2 linked regions of the Homo sapiens genome follow. The protein of the gene in region 1 purifies or fractionates together with the protein of each later gene. This does not show direct contact. Each region holds a gene or a part of one and is shown on either strand. Other genes may lie near its edges.

Region 1 (10,605 bases):
ATTTTGTAAGCCCTTTGTGAACTCCAAAGCACTGTATGGAAGTGAGTTGATGGTCAACTTAAACAGCAGGAATGACTGGGGAGGGGAAAGTGTGACCTCGAGGTTGCTGTATGGAGCGTGAGGTAGGAGGACCCAGGTCCAAGTCCTGGCTTGCCTTCAGTCATTTGGAAGAGTTTCGTTCGGTAAGGCACTGCCTCTCTCAGCCTTAATTTGCTCATCTGTAAAATGGGATCACTAATAATAACTGCTGTATATTGCAGTTACTACATGTTTACTCTACAAGTGCCATGCCATTTAACCCTGTGGACAAGGGCTATTGTCATCTCTACCCTGCAGACGAAACTGAGGCTCAGAAGTATAAAATCACCTGCTCAAGCTAGAAAGGGGCAGAGCTAGGATTAGGATGCAGGCAGTCTGGCTTTTGTTGGGGACGTCAGATCCTCTGTCCCCCCCCCCTCCTGCCGTGGCTACTGTTTTCCTGAGTCTCAGTGCCCTGATGCTGCCTGATGGGCAGGATCAGAATACTTCAAGATTGGGGTTTGAAGGCTGAGGGCAGTGGCTCTGAGTGCCTGTAATCCCAGCACTTTGGGAGGCCGAGGCGGGCGGATCACCTGAGGTCAGGAGTTTGAGACCAGCCTGGCCAACATAGTGAAACCCCATCTCTACTAAAATACAAAAAATCAGCCAGGCGTGGTGGTGCATGCCTGTAATCCCAGCTACTCGGGAGGCTGAGGCAGGAGAATGGCGTGAACCCAGGAGGCAGAGCTTGCAGTGAGCCGAGATCGCGCCATGCACTCCAGCCGGGCCGACAGAGTGAGACTCCGTCTCAAAAATAACAACAACAACAACAAAAAAGAAACACGCTGGGGTTTGAGCTGATCAGGGACAGAAAGGACCCGGGAGGACACCCAGGAAGGAACTCTGGGTCCCAGTTTCTCCCTTGGCCACGTCTCAGGCTGCTGGGCCCTGACCAACAGGGCAGCAGATATCTTCAGGGCCTCAGACAATCCCAGTCACTCACTCATTCCTGCTGTGCATCAGCCACTGGGCAGGATGTGGGTACAAGTGGTAAATAAGGCAACACGGGCCTTGTCCTTGAAGAGCTTCTATTTTCATGGCAGGAGATAGAAAACAAACAAATCAGATGATCACAAGTCTTGACAGGGAACCAGAGAAAGTGAACAACAGTAGTGGAAGAGAGTGACGGGGGTGGGGCCCCCTTTTGGATGGAGCAATCAGGGAGCTGAAGGAGAAGGAATCGGCCATGGGAAGATCTGGAAAGAGGTTCTGAGCAGCAGGAAGAGCACGTGCAAAGGCCCTGGGGTGGGAATTGGCTTGGGGTACTGAGGAACAGCAAAGCCAAAATGACTGCAGCAAAGGCCGAGAGGAAGAGAAAGACCTGGGAAGAGATCCAGGAATTTGGTGGGGTGGAGGGAGGGGAACGAAACCAAGGCAGGGAGTTTGGACTTTATTCCTTGGCCAGGGAGGGAAACTGAGGCAGAAGGAGAGGAACAGACTTTCCCAAGGTCACTCAGGGAGCTAAGGGGGAGATCTGAAGAAAGAGCTCAGGTTCCTGCTGTGGCCACCAACATGGGGCACCCCAGGGAGGCCTGGGACCCAGGACCCACCCCGGCTTCTTCCCAGACACTGACTTCTCCCGGGAAACAGCTTCTACTAGACATTCTGCCTCTGTACCGTCTTCCCAGCCTCAACCTCCCCAATGGCCCAGGCCTTCAATAGGGGTCCCCCGCCCCTCTCTCCCTGGCTCCTTTCCTGACCCTGACGCTGGAGGCCCCACTTTTTTCACTCAGGGCGTTTTCCGATCCCTTTTGTTACCTGAACAATAAGTAACCCAGGTAGTTAGTTATAAACTCTGCAGGAACAAGGAGCTGGTTGATAATTTATAGCAACATCTCAAATTTAAATGGAAAGTAAATAGCATGCTGTTAGCATTAAAGAAAACCCAATCGGGGCAGGCGGGAAGCACTCCAGCCTCCTTGCAAGCTTGGGGCGCCTCATTCTCTCCCGTGCCCCTTCTCCCAGCTGGGTCTGAGCCCCCGCCCCCCTGGCTCCTCCGTTCTGCTTCTCCCAGCTTCTCTGTCCATCTCCCCCAATGGCCTCTCTCTACACTCTCTGCCTCAGCTTCCAGGTCTCTGCTGGTCCCTAGGAAGCACTTTGACCTCTGCTTCCCCTTCAAATGCTGTGGATCAAGCCTCCCCAACCCCACCATCCCACCAAAGGGGGCTGCTGACCGAGAGAGCTCACTCAGCCAGGTAAGAAAGCATCCCCTGCCCCCACCCTCACCCCAAAGCCCCCAGTCCCATCTGGGGCCCTGGGCAGGTCAGGCCCAGCCCCACCCCGTCAGGTTGCCTTCGCCCTGGGTCTGGGATGCCTGACTCTTTGCCCCTCCCCTGCAGCTCTGGAGTCCTTTGCCCTCCTCTTCCTGCCAAGTCAGGGGGCCCTGACTGCTCCCCTGCCCCCTGTCCAGGCCCTCGGGAGGCTCCCTGAGGCCTCTGGGAAAGCAGGAATCCACCAGCCCTCCCCCACCCCAGCTGGGATCAGGACCTTGGACAGAAAAGAGATGGGCCCCTTTGGAGCATCTTTGGGGCTCGGTCTCTCTCTGACTCCCTGGCCACCCCCTGCAGGCCTCTGGTCCCCGGTCATAGCAATTGAGAGCACCGAACAGAGTAGGTTTGGGGCCTCAGTTTGGTGAACTTAGTCTAGCTCCTTCCCGGCTCTAAGCCCCAGTTTCCCCATTTGTGAAGCAGAGTCACCAATAGCTTCTGCCCAGGACTCCTCACCATGAAGGGAAATTATTCCTGTGAAACCTCAGCACAGCGCCCAGGAAGTAGTGAACCTCCTCAAGCAGGCGCTGTAGGGTGGAGGTCAGGGAGCCGCTGGGGAGGGGTGGCCCCTGTAGCCCCCAGGCCATCCTTCCTTCTCCCCCACACCCCCATCCCCCACCCCCACTAGGTGGGAGGTGGGTTGGCCCAGATCTTTCCAGGCCACCATTCCTACAAGTTAATGATCACAGACCTTATCAGAGCCTTTTGCCATTTATAAATTTATAAAACAAAAGAGAAATAATAAAGCACATGGGTAATTAGTAACTAGGTCAGCTCTGCTGAGGAGAGGGGAGGCATCGAGCTCAGGACCCACCCAGTTCTCCAGGAGACGGGGAGTCCGCCAGCGGATGGGGATGTAGAACGGGCAGCCTCTAATGGCGCCTGCTGGTGAGGTGGGGTGCCTGTGGCCATACAGGAAAGGGGAGCAGCTCCCACCTCGAGGCTCTGTCTGCCTCAGGTAAGAAAGACCTGGGCTTCCCTGGCTAAACGCATGAGTCCCTAGGAGGCCAGGAAAGCCCCCAAACCCCAGCTTCGGGCCCTCCTCCCTGGCAGTGCTTCCTGGGCCCCGGAGCCTACCCACTGAGGACTCAGTGCAGGAGTTAGGGTCTGGAGAGTATAAATGATCAGAGTGGCTAAAAATTTCCACCACCTCCCAGTTCTCCAGGCATTTGAGTTGTGAACTCACCTGCTTTTTCTCCCATCTTGGACCCCCCTGGGAAATGTCCCCCTTGCCCAAGGACTGGGCTAAAGGCCTGGGCTCATGGGATTTGGGACTCTGCAGAGGAGCAGTTCAGGGGCTGGAGGCTCAAACCTCCAAGCAAGGACCCCTGGGCTCTCATGGGCCCTGTCCCCCTTCCCAGCAACTAGGCTAAAGGCTGAAGGTCATGGGGACTCAACTCAGAAGGGGGGCTCGTTAGGAGCTGAGGGGGGCCCCTCTAGGCTCTCCTGGGAGCGGGGACGGGGCAGGGCTCCTTACTGCAGAAGGGTCTCCACCACGGCTTTCTGGTGGGCCGCCTCCTCAGGGCTGAGGTTCTCCAGCTCTTTGAGGATGGGTGGCGTGAAGTCTTCCCCATCGTCGTCCGTCTCGTCCTCGGAGCCCCGAGTCTCCCCCAGCCCATTGGGCAGCTCAGCCAGCTCCCCTCGACCGCCGCCGCAGGACTCCCCCTTGTCCAGGGGGCCTTCTCCAGCCAGGAGGTAGGGCCCCGGCTCACCCAGTGCCTGGATCAGTGCCTCTTTGCTCAGCCCTGACTCGAGCAGGGCCGCCAGGAGCTCCGTCTGCAGCTGGCTCAGTTTAGAAACCATGGCTCGGCTGCCACAGGGCCACGCGGCCCGGGTCCACCACGCTAGCCGCCTCCCCCACCGCGTGGGTTGCGTTTGCCTGCCGGCCGGCAGACACAAACCAAACTCCTTGCACCCACTGCCCCCCCAAAACCCCACTAGCCAAGCCCTGTGGGCACCCCCAACCCCCAACCCTGGCCCCAGCGGCCCGTGAATCAGGGCCCCTGCCTGTTCTGTTTACATTGGAGCTGGGGAAATTCTCCAAGGTTCATATTTATCCGTGTGCTTAGCGAAGGGACTGAACTTTGGACTTCAGCCCTGCAAAGTGCAGGCCTCATGGCAGCGGAGAGGGACAGGGAGCTATGGCCTGCGATGGGAGTGGGCAGAGGGGAGGGTGGGGGAGGCGCAGGTGAGGGGCCCTGAGCAGCTGGGATGGAAGGTGCTGGGAGCCAGGGAGGCCATCAGGAGAGCAGCGTTGGGTCCCACCCCCGAAAGAACCTTGTAGGGGCATCATGCTGAGACAGGAGAGCCAAAAATGCTTGCTGCTTACGAGAGCGGCAGCAGCAGGGAGCTCTAGACAGCTGGGCTAGCTCTTCTCAAGGGCAGAGGATGCTCACGGCCATTTTGGGGCCCTTCCATCCATTTTGGGACCCTTCCACCCCACTCCCGGCCTGACACCAGGCCTCCCTGTAGGAAAAAATATGTTAAGATTACCATGTGCCAAGAACAGTGCTGGCTCTGTGAGGGCGAATTCACTTCATTGCATTCTGCTACCAACTGTGAGCAGTTACAGAGATTATCCCCATTTTATAGAGGAGGAAATCGAGGCTCTGAGCGGTTAAGTAACTTGTCCAGGGTCATACAGCCAGCAAGGCAGAAAACATGCAAGGTGAGACTGAGTTGGGATGAGTGTGACACTTGCCTCAGGTGCAAATTTATTTTTTTATTTTTTGAGCTATGTTCTCACTTTGTCACCCAGGCTGGAGTGCTGTGGCGCGATCATGGCTTACTGCAGCCTTGACTTCCTGGGTTCAGGTGATCCTCCCGCCTCAGCCACCCAAGTACCCAAGTAGCTGGCACTACAGGCACGCACCACGACACCCAGCTGATTTTGTGTGTGTGTGTTGTGTGTGTTTGGGTTGTGTGTGTGTGTGTTTTTGAGACAGAGTCTCACTCTGTCACCCAGGCTTGGAGTGCAGTGGAGCAATCTTGGCTCACTGCAACCTCCGCCTCCCAGGTTCAAGCGATTCCCCTGCCTCAGCCTCCGGAGTAGCTGGGATTACAGGCACATACCACTACACCCGGCTAATTTTTTTGTATTCTTTATTGAGTTGGGGTTTCACCATGTTGGCCAGGCTGGTCTTGAACTCTTGACCTCAAGTGATTCGTCCGCCTCGGCCTCCCAAAGTGCTGGGATTACAGGTGTGAGCCACTGTGCCCGGCCTTGTGTGTGTATTTTTTGTGGAGACAGGGTCTTGCCATGCTGCCCAGGTTGGTCTCAAACTCCTGGACTCAAGCCATCCGCCCACCTCAGCCTCCCAAAGTGTTAGGATTACAGGCGTGCGCCACCATGCCTGGCAGCCCAGGTGCAAATTTTAAGGGAATGCCAAAAAACCCAGTCATCAAGGTAAATAACATTTTTATGCAATATGTTTTTAAAATTAAAATGAATGCAAAACCCCAAAGAATTAAAAACAGATGTCTATACAAAAACTTGTGCGTGAATGCTCATAGCAGCATTATTCACAAGAGCCAAAAAGTGGAAAAAACATAAATATTCATCACCTGATGAATATATAAACAAAATATGGCTTGACCATGCAATGGTATAGACATATATATTTTTTTCTTTCTTTTTTTTTTTTTTTGAGATGGGGGTCTCGCTCTGTTGCCCAGGCTGGAGTGCAGTGGTGCAATCTTGGCTCACTGCAACCTCCGCCTCCCGGGTTCAAGCAATTCTCCTGCCTGAGCCTCCCGAGTATCTGGAACTACAGGTATGTACCACCACGCCCAGCTAATTTTTGTATTTTTGGTAGAGATGGGGTTTTACCATGTTGGCCAGACTAGTCTCGAACTCCTGACCTTAGGTGATGCCCTCGCCTTGGCCCCCCAAAGTGCTGGGATTACAGGCATGAGCCACCGCATCCAGCCAATGCAATGGTATATTATTTGGTCATATAAAGGAATGGAGTTCCAGTACATGCCACAACATGCATGAGCCTTGAAAACATGATGCTAAGTGAAAAAGTGGTCACTAAAGACTACATAGTGTGTGAGTCCATTTATCTGAAATGTCCAGAACAGGCAAATCCATAGAGACAGGAAGTGGATTTGTGGTTGTCAGGGCCTGGGTGGGAGAAGGGAATGGGGAGTGGCCACTCCATGGTGCTGGGTTTCTTTAGGATGATAAAAATGTTCTACAATTGATTGTGGTGATATCGGACAACTCTGTGACTTTATTAAAACCCAATGAATTGCACATTTTAAAAGGGCGAGTTTGATGGTATGTAAATCAATAAAAATATTGTTGTAGCTTTATTGAGATATACTTACCATACAATTCACCCATTTCATGTGTGCAATTCTGATTTTTTTTTTCATTTTTATTTATTTTTATTTTTTGAGACAGGGTTTGGCTCTGTTGCCCAAGCTAGAGTGCAATGGCATGATCTGGGCTCACTGCAACCTCCGCCTCCTGGGCTCAAATCATCCTTCTACCTCAGCCTCCCGAGTAGCTGGGACTACAGGTGTGCACCACTGCACCCAGCTAATTTTTTTTTTTTTTTTTTTTGTATTTTTGGTAGAGACGGAGTTTCACCATGTTGCCCAGGCTGGTCTCAAACTCCTGGACTCAAGAGATCCTCCCATCTCAGCCCCACAAAGTGCTGGGATTACAGGTGTGAGCCACCATGCCCGGCCTCAAAAAATATTTTTTAACTAATGTAAAATAATCTGTGCTGAACAAAATAGCAAACATCTAAATACAGGCCCTGTGGCCAGGCACAGTGGCTCATGCCTGTAATCCCAGTACTTTGGGAGGCCGAGGTGGGTGGATCACCTGAGGTCAGGAATTTGAGACCAGCCTGGCTAACATGATGAAACCCCATTTCTACTAAAAATTTAAAAAGCTGGGCATGGTGATGCACGCAGGAGGCTGAGACAGGAGAATCACTTGAACCCAGGAGGCGGAGGTTGCAGTGAGCCGAGATCACGCCATTGCACTCCAGTTTGGGCAACAAGAGCAAAACTCTGTCTCAAAAAAAAAAAAAAAAAAAAAAACAGGCCCTGCCCTCACCCACCAGCCACATGTGGCTACCAAGCACTTGAAAGATGGCTAATGTCACTTCTTGAAATGATAATTTTTAAAAAATATATTGAGTTAAATTTTTAAATTAAGAAAATTTTGGCCGGGCGTGGTGGCTAACGCCTGTAATCCCAGCACTTTTGGGAGGCCAAGGTGGGTAGATCACCTGAGGTCAGGAGTTCGAGACCACCCTGACCAATATGGTGAAACCCCATCTGTAATAAAAATACAAAAATTAACCTCAGGAGGCTGAGGCAGGAAAATCACTTGAACCTGGGAGGCGGAGGTGGCAGTGAACCAAGATCATGCCACTGCACTCTGGCCTGGGTGATACAGCAAGACACTGTCTCAAAAAAAAAAAAAAAAAAAAAAAAGACAATTTAAAAGTTAACATTTAGGCCGGGCGCGGTGGCTCACGCCTGTAATCTCAGCACTTTGGGAGGCCGAGGTGGGCGGATCACAAGGTCAGGAGATTGAGACCATCCTGCCTAACATGGTGAAACCCCGTCTCTACTAAAAATACAAGAAATTAGCCTGGCGTGGTGGCGGGCGCCTGTAGTCCCAGCTACTTAGGAGGCTGAGGCAGGAGAATGGCGTGAACCCAGGATGCGGAGCTTGCAGTGAGCCGAGATCGCGCCACTGTACTCCAGCCTGGGCGACAGAGCGAGACTCCCTCTCAAAAAAAAAAAAAAAAAAAAAAAGTTAACATTTAGAATAATTTTAAATTAGATTTAATTAAAATATTATTTATATATTATACAAATATAATGTTATATTTAGTTTAAAATAATTTGGTTTAAATTAAAATTTTATTTATAAAAATAACTTTTTATTTTAAAAATTAAAGAAAATAACTTCACCTGTTCCATTTTACTTTTTATTTTTTTAAGAGCCAGATTCTTACTCTGTCACCCAGGCTGGCATGATCATAGCTCACTTCAGCCTAGAACTCCTGGCTTCAAGCAATCCTCCCACCTCAGCATCCCAAGTAGCTGGAACTACAGGTACGCACCATCATGCCCAGCTTCATTTATATATTTATCTTTTTTGTTTGTTTTTTGAGACAGGGTCTCCTTCTGTCGCCCGAGCTGGAGTGCAGTGGCACAATCTTGGCAAACTGCAACCTATGCTTCTGGGGCTCCCGTGATCCTCCCACCTCAGCCTCTCCAATAGCTGGGACTACAAGCGTGTGCCACCATGCCTCGCTAATTTTTGTATTTTTTAGTAGAGACAAGAGTTTGCCACATTGCCCAGGCTGGTCTCAAACTCCTGAGCCCAAGCCATCTGCCCACCTCGTCCTCCCAAGGTGCTGGGATTACAGGGGTGAGCCACTGCACCCTGCCTATTTATTTACTTTTCTTAGAGATGGGGGTCTTGCTTTGTTGCCCAGGCTGGTCTCGAACTCCTGGGCTCAAGCAATCCTCTCACCTCAGCCTCCCAAAGTGTTGGGATTACAGGCATGAGCCATCTCACCTGGCCAGTAATGTATTTCACTCCAAGAACAACTCATGAATTAGGAACTGTTATAATCCCCCTTCTGCAGGGGAGGAAAGAGAGGCTCAGAGAGGTTAAATGACTGCTCAGAGTCCCTCAGAGCTGGGCTTTAAGTCCACCTGAGGCAGGCGGACGGGCTGTGCAGGACAAGTTGGCAGCCCCCGCCTTAAGGAGAGTGGTACCCTCTTTCCTCCAGTGCATTTATGTTTTATTTTTATTTTTGAGACAGAGCCTCACTTTGTCACCCAGGCTGGAGTACAGTGGTGCGATCTCAGCTCACTGTAACCTCTGCCTCCTGGGTTCGAGCAATCCTCCTACCTTAGCCTCCTGAGTAGCTGGGACTACAGGCACACACCACCATGCCTGGCTAATTTTTGTATTTTTGGTAGAGACAGGGTTTCACCATGTTTGCCAGGCTGGTCTCAAACTCCTGGCCTCAAAAGATCCACCCACCTCGGCCTCCCAAACTGTTGGGATTATAGGCGTGAGCCACCGTGCCCGGCCAAGTGCATTTTTTTGTAAACCCCCGTGCAAGTTGCTTTGAGGTTGAGCAGCTTACTGCTGGGGACAGCATTCTCAAGTCCAGGCTAAACAGGGAAGATGCTGTGTGCTGTCCCTTTGTGGCTTTGAGGTTCTCCTGCTTATTCTCTTTGCTGCCTGCAGCTGCCTCTTGGTGACTTTCCCTTTCCAGGGAGCCAGAGGAACCAAGGAGTGTTGGCCCTGACTCCTGCCCCCAGCATGTAAACTCATTAACTGCTGGGTCCTCAGGCAGTTAGGTGGCTGAGCATTTGAGTCTGGGACGGCAGGTGGATTTGGTTGGAGAGGGAATGACAGAGATTGGGGAGGAGCCTCCAGAGTCTAAAGAGATAGGTACACAAGCAGAAAGTTCCAGCCCCCAGCCTGCCTTTCCCCCATGCTCAGGGGACAAAGCTGAATTAACTCGAGGTCAGGAATGGCATTTGCATTTGCATTCTTGAGAGTCACTGCAAATAAGAGCTGTAGTCATGGTGAGTGGTTAAGGCAATGGACTAGAGAACCACTGAGAAAAAAAGCGAACAGTGGCTGGGCGCAGTGGCTCATGCCTGTCATCCCAGCACTTTGGGAGACCGAAGTGGGTGGATCACTTGAGGTCAGGAGTTCGAGACCAGCCTGGCCAACATGGTGAAAACCCGTCTCTACTAAAAATACAAAAATTAGCCAGGCTTGTCAGTGGGCACCTATAATCCCAGCTAGTCGGAAGGCTGAGGCAGGAGAATCACTTGAACCCAGAAGGCAGAGGTTGCAGTGAGCTGAGATCATGACACTGCACTCCAGCCTGGGTGACAGAGAGAAACTCCGTCTCAAAAAAAAAAGAAAAAGAAAAAAAAAAAAAGGAACAGCCGGACATGGTAGCTCATACCTGTAATCCCAGCGCTTTGGGAGACCGAGGCAGGTGGATCACCTGAGGTCAGGAGTTCCAGATCAGCCTGGCCAACATGGTAAAACCCCATCTCTACTAAAAATACAAAAATTAGCTGGATGTGGTGGCGCACACCTGTAGTCCCAGATACTCAGGAGGCTGAGGCAGGAGAATAGCTTGAACCCGGGAGGCGGAGGTTGCAGTGAGCAGAGATCACGCCACTGCACTCCAGCCTGGGCGATAGAGTAACAATCCGTCTCAAAAAAATCTGAAAATTAAAAATT
Region 2 (9,743 bases), on another chromosome or scaffold:
TGAATGGGTTCCTGATCCTTTGATGCAGTGGGGAGAAAGGCAACTTACAAATTACACTGATAGGCAAGTGAAATCCATCCCATATATTTATATATATACTAGTGGCAATGCTTATTTTAGGACTGCATGTCATTTTGCATACCATACATAATACTTGAGAAAAATCTGTGGTGGGTGCTTTTTCTGCCTGATTTGAAACCAGTGATTTTTCTTTCAGGTATAGAAGCCAAGAAGAATGTGGTGGTAACTCAAGCCGACCAAATAGGCCCTCTTCCCAGCACTTTGATAAAAAGTGTGGACTGGTTGCTTGTATTTTCCTTATTCTTTTTAATTAGTTTTATTATGTATGCTACCATTCGAACTGAGAGTATTCGGTGGCTAATTCCAGGACAAGAGCAGGAACATGTGGAGTAGTGATGGTCTGAAAGAAGTTGGAAAGAGGAACTTCAATCCTTCGTTTCAGAAATTAGTGCTACAGTTTCATACATTTTCTCCAGTGACGTGTTGACTTGAAACTTCAGGCAGATTAAAAGAATCATTTGTTGAACAACTGAATGTATAAAAAAATTATAAACTGGTGTTTTAACTAGTATTGCAATAAGCAAATGCAAAAATATTCAATAGATGCACTATTCTTGTTTTTACTGCATGAACGTAATCCAGTATTTGGAAAGTAATCCAGTTTGAAATGTGAAGATGTATTCCGGCAGAATAGTGAGTAGAATGACATGCTTACTATACAGAAGGCAAAAATAGGACTCTCAGGTAATAGTTTAAGGAAACCCTTGATTCCTTATATATGTTTAAGAAGGTTAGTTTTCTGTTTCTTTGCAGTTTTTCTTCTAGAGTCCATAGCAGGAAAGTATGTAACCAGAATTGGTTAGTGTGACCCCCTCAAGTAGCAAGTGATGGAAAATAAGAGTCAAATACCTTGATGTTTGTGATCTCTAACTCAAAAAATTTGAAGTGTTTTAAGTTGTTTCTGGGTAAGGGAGATGTTAGGAGAAAGGAAATGCTGTAACTAAAGCTCAATTATTATCAGTTCTATGCTAACGTATACATTTTAATCATAGTTACCTAAGCAGCATGCATTAATTGAACCTTAAAATGTTCCCAGCAGGCTGGGCGCAGTGGCTCATGCCTGTAATCCCAGCACTTTGGGAGGCCAAGGCGGGAGGATCACTTGAGGTTAGGACTTTTGAGACCAGCCTGGCCAACTTGGTGAAACCCTCTCTCTACTAAAAATACAAAAAATTAGCTGGGCGTGGTGGCGGGCACCTGTAATCCCAGCTACTTGGGAAAGCTGAGGCATGAGAATCACTTGAACCCGGGAGGCAGAGGTTGCAGTGAGCTGAGATCATGCCACTGCACTCCAGCCTGTGCAACCAGAGCGAAACTCCATCTCAAAAACAAACAAAAAGAAGTATTGAAGTGTAAAACACTGTTCTTGCCCACAAGTTGATTCTAGTCTAGTTCAAGACACATGTTTAGTAAAGAGACAACATGTAATTTAAACAAACTTTTTTTTTTTTTTTAGACAAAGTCTCACTCTGTCACCTAGGCTGGAGTGCAATGGTGCAATCTTGGCTCACTGCAACCTCTGCTTCCCGGGTTCAAGCGATTCTCCAGCCTCAGCCTCCTGAGTAGCTGGGACTATGGGCCTGTGCCATCACACCCAGCTAATTTTTCTATTTTTAGTAGAGATGGGGTTTTGCCATGTTGGCCAGGCTGGTCTCAAACTGCTGACTTCAGGTGATCCACCCGCCTCAGCCTCCCAAAGTGTTGGGATTACAGGTGTGAGCCACTGCGCCTGGCCTAAACAAACTTTTTGAAAAGCTGTTTCTAAAAGATTCCTTAAATTCAGATATGACAGCTAATTACCTCATCATAAATTACTTTTATACTAATTGTTTCCAGGGTTTTAGAGTAGTTGAATGTTTATTTCACAAGGCACCCTAAATTCTATAGAAATAAAACCTCAGATGAGTCTCCTTCTTAGAGTGTTACAATGAATGGGAGTTTACAACTTTTATGTGTCATGTTTCCAACAGCTGTGTTTGGGGTGGTCACTGGCAGGAGGGGACCGTATCTCAGAATGGCACATTATTTCTATTTTACACATGAGCAAATTGAGGCATAGAGAGTTAGATAACTTGCCCAGGTTACACAGATTGTAAGTTGATGAAGCTGGGATTTGAATCTTCACATGTGTGTACTTATAAATACAAATGTAAGGAAAACTCTAGTGAGTCCACCTCTTATATTGAGTTATTACTGTGTGAGTGCCAAGTACTGTTTTAGATGCTTTACATATACTATTTTGTTTAATATCCTTTTTAAAGAATAAACTAGGTTGGTGCAGTAGCTCACGCCTGTAATCCCAGGACTTTGGGAAGCTGAGGCAGGTGGATTGCTTGAGTCTCAGGAGTTCGAGACCAGGCTGGTTAACATGGCGAAACCCTGTCTTTACTAAAAGTACAAAAAATTAGCTGGGTGTGGTGGTGCGTCCTGGTAGTCCCAGCTACTCGGGGTGCTGAGGTGGGAGAATCACCTGAGCCCAGGAGGTCGAGGCTGCAGTGAGCTCTGTAATCATGCCACTGCGCTCCAGCTTAGGCAATCAGAGTGAGACCCTGTCTCAAAGCAAAAGAAAAAACCTGAGGCTCTCAATAACTTGCTTTCCTTCATGCAGCTTCCAGTGGCTGGAACCAGGCTTTAAATTTACTCCAAAACCTTTATGTGGGATGGCACCCTGCCCTGCCTTTGCACCATGGCCCAGCTACATGGGGTTCCCCTGGAGGGAAATGTGGAGCAGAGCCATTCCCTGGAGAGGAGGTTCAAGTATAGAGAGGATCAGCCTCAAAACACTGGTGCTGCCAGGTGCGGGGGCTCATGGCTGGAATCCTAGCACTTTGGGAGGCTGTAGTGGGAGGACTGCTTCAGTGAGTCGTGATTGTGTCACTGCACTGCAGCCGGGGTGACAGAGCGAGATCATGTCTCAAACCCCCAAAATCAGAAAAACAAAACAAAAACACCAGTAGTGTTGAGGGAAAGTGAAAAGGGGAAGGAAGTGATCAAAGACCAGCTGAACAGCCCAAGCTAAGCATGGTTCCACTACAGAGCATGTGGCCAGTAAATCTTTGCTAAGGGACTTAAATCCTATTAATTGGGGAGCTACATGTGTGGGCAGACAATTCACAGCCCCTGTGATGTGATCCACTGATGTCATCATTTCCCTGGGCCCTAGCATCTGCCGTTCGCTGCTTTTTTGACTAGATCTGCATGATCAAATTTATTTTATTTTTTTGAGGTGGAGTTTCACTCTTGTCACCCAGGCTGGAGTGCAAGTGCAGTGGCCCGATCTTGACCTCTGCCTCCCAGGTTCAAGAGATTCTCCTGCCTCAGTTTCCTCAGTAGCTGGGACTACAGGCATGCGCCACCATGCGCGACTAATTTTTGTACTTTTTTGTAGCAACAGGGTTTCACCATGTTGCCCAGCCTAGTTTCAAACTTCTGGGCTCAAGTGATCTATCCGCCTCAGCCTCCCAAAGTGCTGGGATCACAGGCGTGAGCCACTTTGCCTGGCCAGTGACTATATCCCAGATGCCAGTTTCATACAGTGGTATTAAGGAAGGAAAATGATTAAATTTACTGAAAATAATGAAGGTTCACTTGTTTACTCACATCCACTGGTTCATTTTTTAGTTCTTACTTTAATGAGCGAATCTGAGTAGTAGTTTTCATGATCATAAACAGTCAATGTAAATGTTGGAAATATAACTTTTAATTCTTTAGGACCAGCAACATTTGATAAGGGCCCCCAGTGTGATTCCTCCCGAGTTTTGCTTTTGAAATGGTTACATCTTTTTTTTTTTTGACAGAGTCTTGCTCTGTTGCCAGGCTGGAGTGCAGTGGTGCAATCTCAGCTCACTGCACCCTCCGCCTCCCGGGTTCAAGCTATTCTCCTGCCTCAGTTTCCTCAGTAGCTGGGATTACAGGCACGCACCACCATGCCCAGCTGATTTTTGTATTTTTAGTAGAGACGGGGTTTCACCATTTTGGCCAGGCTGGTCTCGAACTCCTGGCCTCAATTGATCCACCCGCCTCACCCTCCCAAAGTGCTGGGACTACAGGTATGAGCCGCTGCACCCGGCGAAATGGTTACATTTTGTCAAGTGGGCAAATGGGAAGAACAGAAGCCCGTGAATTTTGGGCTACTTTGAGGCAAAATGCTTTATTTTTTCTAGGTCCATATGGATGGACTGCTAATAACTGCTAAGTTGAAGTTAAATGGACTCTTGTTCTTAAAAAAAATATTTTGCCATATCCTCTGCAAAACTGCTTATTAATTTGCATAAACTTTTTTTTTTATTTTTGAGGGGGGTGAGGGAAAGGGTATTTTGCTGTCGATGGAATGCAGTGGCGTGATTTCAGCTCACTGCAGCCTCCCGGGCTCAAGCCATCCTCCCATCTCAGCCTCACGGATAGCTGGAACTACCAGCACGTGCCACCACGCGTGGCTAATTTTTGTATTTTTAATAGAGATGGGGTTTTGCCATGTTGCCCAGGCAGATCTCGAACATCTGGCCTCAAGTGATCCTCCTGCCTTGTCCTCCCAAAGTGCTGTGATTACAGGTGCGGGCCACCATGCCTGGCCTGCTTAAACTATTCAGTTAAAAACAAACAAAAAAGAGGCCGGGCGCGGTGGCTCACGCCTGTAATCCCAGCACTTTAGGAGGCCGAGGCGGGCGGATCACGAGGTCAGGAGATTGAGGCCATCCTGGCTAACACTGTGAAACCCCGTCTCTACTAAACATACAAAAACAAAATTAGCCGGGCGTGGTGGCGGGTGACTGTAGTCCCAGCTACTCGGGAGACTAAGGCAGGAGAATGGCGTGAACCCGGGAGGCGGAGCTTGCAGTGAGCCGAGATCGCGCCACTGCACTCCAGCCTGGGCGACAGAGCGAGACTCCGTCTCAAAAAAAAAAAAAAAAAAAAAAGATACAAGTGAGTATTCTTAATAGTATGTCAATTACATCTCAAAAAAGTCAAAAAAAAAAAAAAAAAAAGAATGAAAGAATACCTCCCCAAAAATGATACAAGAAAAGATTCACCTAAATCTGTTCACAGCTGTCTGCAGAGCTCCTACTGTGTGCTGAGCCTGGGGGTAAACAGGGCACGGACACGTTTGGGAGGGGATTACAGGCCGGGTTTCCACACTTTTTGGTCCAGGCAAACCCAGACGAGCCAGCTGGCTCAAGAACTTGGCAGCTGCGTGATGACTGAACAGAGGCTGCGTTCGAACCCACTACTGCAAGACTTAGGAGCCCCCGATGGGAACTGCCGTGGTTCACTGCCCCAGCCCCGCCGCTCAACTGCCCCGCCCTGGCCTACGACATCCTCCTGCCCGCATGGACTGCGCGCAGCGCCGCCAAGCGGGGAGCCCAGCTCGGTGCTAGCGCCCGCGAAGCGGAGGAGGCCGGCGCCCGAGGCTGGGCGAAGTTCCTCCTAGCGCAGCGAGGACCGGAGGGCAAGGCCAGCGCGCGCCGGGCGACCTGCGTCCCGGGCACAGACGCGACGGGCCCGCACGGGGCGGGGACCGCGCGCGCCTGCTGGGCCTACGGCTGTGGGGCGCGCAGAGTCCACCTGGCGGCCAAGGGCGCTGGCGACCGCTGAAGCTCCTGGGGGTGTTCGGGGTCCGGGCTGCGCCTGTGCCCGCGGGAAGGCTGGGCGCTTCCCACACACAGACCCCGCTCCGGGCCAGCCCCGCAGGGAGACTACCAGGGCTGGCGGTAGCTGGGCGTGGTCGGGTCGGGGGCGGCTGTGGGCGGCCGGCAGGCAGCGCGCGGGGCAGCCCTCGGCAGACGGCCAATGGCGGCGGTGCTCGGGGCGCTCGGGGCGACGCGGCGCTTGTTGGCGGCGCTGCGAGGCCAGAGCCTAGGGCTAGCGGCCATGGTGAGTGCACAGCGGCCGCGTGGGTGGGGGTCCGGGGTCGGGGGGCGGTGCGAGGCCCGGCGGCGTCGGCTGAGGGACCAGCGGGACTGGGGCGAACCCGGCGTGGGCCGAGCCTTGGAGCTCGGGCGTCGGGTCACCGCGTCCCGGGACTGACCACCTGTCCGGTGCGCCGCTCAGAGACCGGGGTGGCCGCAGCCTCCGCCACTTGCCCTTGACTTTACACTTCCGCCGAAGCCTACGAACTTGCCAACCGGAAACAAATGGGAACGAATTTTGTTCAGCAACTACAAAAGGCAGATGTGAAAAGTAGTTGCAGAACAATTCGGTGCCCGCTGCCGCTCGTTGTGCTGAGGACGAACGGCGCTGCGGGCCTGGCTCCCTATGGCGGCTCCCTGCTCGCGCTTCACTCCAAGGGGAACCCACAGAGGTTTTGGAGGAGTTATTAATAAATTGTCTTTTTTGGTGACATATTGACTTTTCTTTCCTTTTCCAAGGGGCCGTCAGTTTTCCTGCTGTAGAAATTAATATTTTGGAGTAAATGGAGGGAAAGTTTTAACATGCAGCACCACCTAGTGGAAAAGTGGTGCGTTAAACTCACCATCTCATTTTAAGTTGCATTTTAACCGCCCATTTCAGTTTGAAATGTTTTGTTTTGTTTTGTTTTTTCGACACGGAGTCTCGCTGTATCGCCGAGCCCGGAGTGGAGTGGCGCGATCTCGGCTCACTGCAACCTCCATCTCCTGGGTTCACGCTATTCTCCTGCCTCACCCTCCCGAGTAGCTGCGATTACAGGCGCGTGCCATTTCGCCCAGGTAATTTTTTATATTTTTAGTAGAGAGGGGTTTTCGCCATGTTGGCCAGGCTAGTCTCGAACTCCTGACCTCAGGTGATCTACCTGCCTCGGCCTCCCAAAGTGCTGGGATTACAGGCGCGAGCCACTGCGCCTGGCCTGAAATTCTTTAATAGAAGAATTTTTTTTTTTTTTTTTTTTTTTTTTTGAGAAGGAGAATCACGCCGTCACCCAGGCTGGAGTGCAGTGGCGCGATCTCGGCGTATTGCAAGCTCCGCCTCCCGGGTTCACGCCATTTTCCTGCCTCAGCCTCCCGAGTAGCTGGGACAACAGGCGCCCGTCGCCACGCCCGGCTAATTTTTTTGTATTTTTAGTAGAGGCGGGGTTTCACCGTGTTAGCCAGGATGGTCTCGATCTCCTGACCTCGTCATCCACCCTCCTCGGCCTCCCAAAGTGCTGTAATAGAAGAAATTTAAAATAGCTCGAAGACGGAGGAAGATAGGCACTCCGCCGCTTCTTGTCCACGAAGGGGAGAACACAAGTTGAGTGCCTACTGTCACCTAGGCGTGTCTTCAGGCGTACTCTGCCCCAGGTGCTAGTGATCCAGTAAGATTAGGGTGTTCTGGGAAGGAATGAGTCAACAGACATGATTTGAGCGCTGCCCCATGCCAGGCTCAATGCTAGGTACCCTCACATTCAAGATCTGTAATCTAAGCCTTTCAAAAAATCTTGGCAGGTAGATATTATAATATCCCCACTACAGACAGAAGGATCCCGGAATTCAGAAAAGCGGAGTTTAGTATCCCACAGCTAAAAGTAACAAAGTTAGGCCTTAGATCTAGTTTACTCTCTTCAAATCCTAGCCTACCCCCCATCCCCTGAAAAAATTAAGCCCACCACCAAGGGTTCTGCTGTGAATGTGCCCTCATGGGGGCCTTTGATGTTATGTAGATGAAGTGGCTCCATTTCCCAGTCCTGGGTGTGGTCCCTGCTGCTGGGCAGGTGTCTGTTGTGGGCATAAAGTGCATACCACTGATCTTAGCGGGGATGTGGATGGTCCAGCACTCAGAGAAAACAGCTCAGTGTGTTCTACAGACTCCAGGTTCCTGCCTTATTACAGGCAGCATGTTTAATGGTTTTCTTTGCAGCTACTCAGTGTGGACACACATAATTCTGTTTCTTTTCCAAAATTCTCTGAGTTGACAAAATAAGTGTTTAATAAGAATTTCAGAATTCTTTCTTTTTTTTTGAGACGGAGTCTCGCTCTGTTGCCCAGACTGGAGTGCAGTGGTGCGGTCTTGGCGCACTGCAACTTTGCCTCCTGGGTTCAAGCGATTCTCCTGCCTCAGCCTCCTGAGTAGCTGAGACTATAGGCGCGTGCCACCACGCTTGGCTAATTTTTGTATTTTTAGTAGAGACGGGTTTCACCATCTTGGCCAGGCTGGCCTCGAACTCCTGACCTTGTGATCTGCTCGCCTCGGCCTCCCAAAGTGCTGGGATTACAGGCATGAGCCACCACGCCTGGCCAAGAATTTTAGATTTCTTATGATAGATGTATGTGTAAGTTTTTCAGAACTGTCACTGGAAAACTGATGAATGAATCTCTTTTGATTTTTTTTTTTTAATTGAGTCGGAGTTTCACTCTGTTGCCCAGGCTGGAGTGCAGTGGCACGATCTCGGCTCACTGCAACCTCTATCATCCGGGTTCAAATGATTCTCCTTCCTCAGCCTCCTGAGTAGCAGGGACTACAGGCGCCTGCCACCACGCCCAGCTAATTTTTTGTATTTTTAGTAGAGATGGGGTTTCACCATCTTGGCCAGGCTGGTCTTGAACTCCTGCCCTCGTGATCCACCCACCTCGGCCTCCCAAAGTGCTGGGATTACAGGTGTGAGCCACCACGCCCGGACTTTTTTTTTTTTTTTTAAGAGACAGGGTCTCACTCTGTTGCCCAGGCTGGAATGCAGTGGTGATCATAGCTCACTGCAGCCTCAGTCATCTGGTCTCAAGTGATCCTCCCACCTCAGCCTCCCAAGTAGCTGAGACTATGGACATGGTCCACCACACCCGGCTATTTTTTAAAATTTTTTTGTAGAGACGAGGTCTCATTGCGTTGCCCAGGCTAGTCTTCAACTCCTGGCCTAAAATGATCCTCCCACCTCAGCTTCCCAAAGTGCCAGGATTACAGATGTGAGCCACTGTGCCCAGCCCTAGTAAATGTTTTTTTTTTTTTTTTTGAGACAGAGTTTCACTCTGTTGCCCAGGCTGGATGGCTGGGATTACAGGCGTGTGCCACCATGCCCAACTAATCTAGTAAGTGGTTTTTAACAACAAGCTTTTGCATATTTTTGTTTAATTAAAAAGTATTCTCTGCTGGGCACAGTGGCTCACGCCTGTAATCCCAGCACTTTGGGAGGCTAAGGTGGGCGGATCCCTCGAGGTCAGGAGTTTGCAACTAGCCTAGCCAACATGTGAAACCCTGTCTCTACTAAAAATACAAAATGTTAGCTGGGCGTGGTGGCATGCACCTGTAATCACAGCTACTCAGGAGGCTGAGGCAGAAGAGTCGCTTGAACCTGGGAGGCAGAGGTTGCAGTGAGCTGAGATCACACCACTGCACTCCAGCCTGGGTGACAGAGCAAGACTTGGTCTCAAAAAAAAAAAAAAAAAAGGTACTCTCATTCTTTCCTTTTGTTAGTTGTGGGGAAGAATAGCCGACCTAGCAAAGAAGAAAAACTAGAAAACTGATTTATTAGTATTTTTTTCTTCATAGAAAAAGTTGTCTAAAGGTAAAATCTTTTTCCTCTCTTAATATTAGTGATAAATGATTTTGGGATTTCTGAAGTGGGAGTGAGTTGCAGCTTAATGGCAGAGAATCCAGGGAATGCAGCTTAGCCCACAGTTGCCCTTTGATGAGGAGCCTTCACTAATGTTCATCTTTCTGGGTGACAGCCTCTCTCTCACCTGAGCCTACAGTAACTCTGCAAGTAGGTAAGGCAAGAA

Evidence for each region.
Region 2: the proteins of HNF1A (region 1) and PCBD2 purify together in Homo sapiens (affinity purification with mass spectrometry; 4 studies listed by BioGRID and IntAct, with this or other methods). This does not show direct contact.

Annotation. Positions count from the first base shown.
Region 1 is NC_000012.12:120,972,312-120,982,916, reverse strand, and holds the start of HNF1A (hepatocyte nuclear factor 1-alpha), read right to left. Parts: upstream 4,375-10,605; 5' UTR 4,149-4,374; coding exon 3,823-4,148; intron 1-3,822. UniProt on the Homo sapiens protein: Transcriptional activator that regulates the tissue specific expression of multiple genes, especially in pancreatic islet cells and in liver. Binds to the inverted palindrome 5'-GTTAATNATTAAC-3'.
Region 2 is NC_000005.10:134,899,272-134,909,014, forward strand, and holds the start of PCBD2 (pterin-4-alpha-carbinolamine dehydratase 2), read left to right. Parts: upstream 1-5,859; 5' UTR 5,860-5,868; coding exon 5,869-5,952; intron 5,953-9,743. Other genes in the region: TXNDC15 (thioredoxin domain-containing protein 15 isoform 1 precursor), read left to right, coding at 218-414.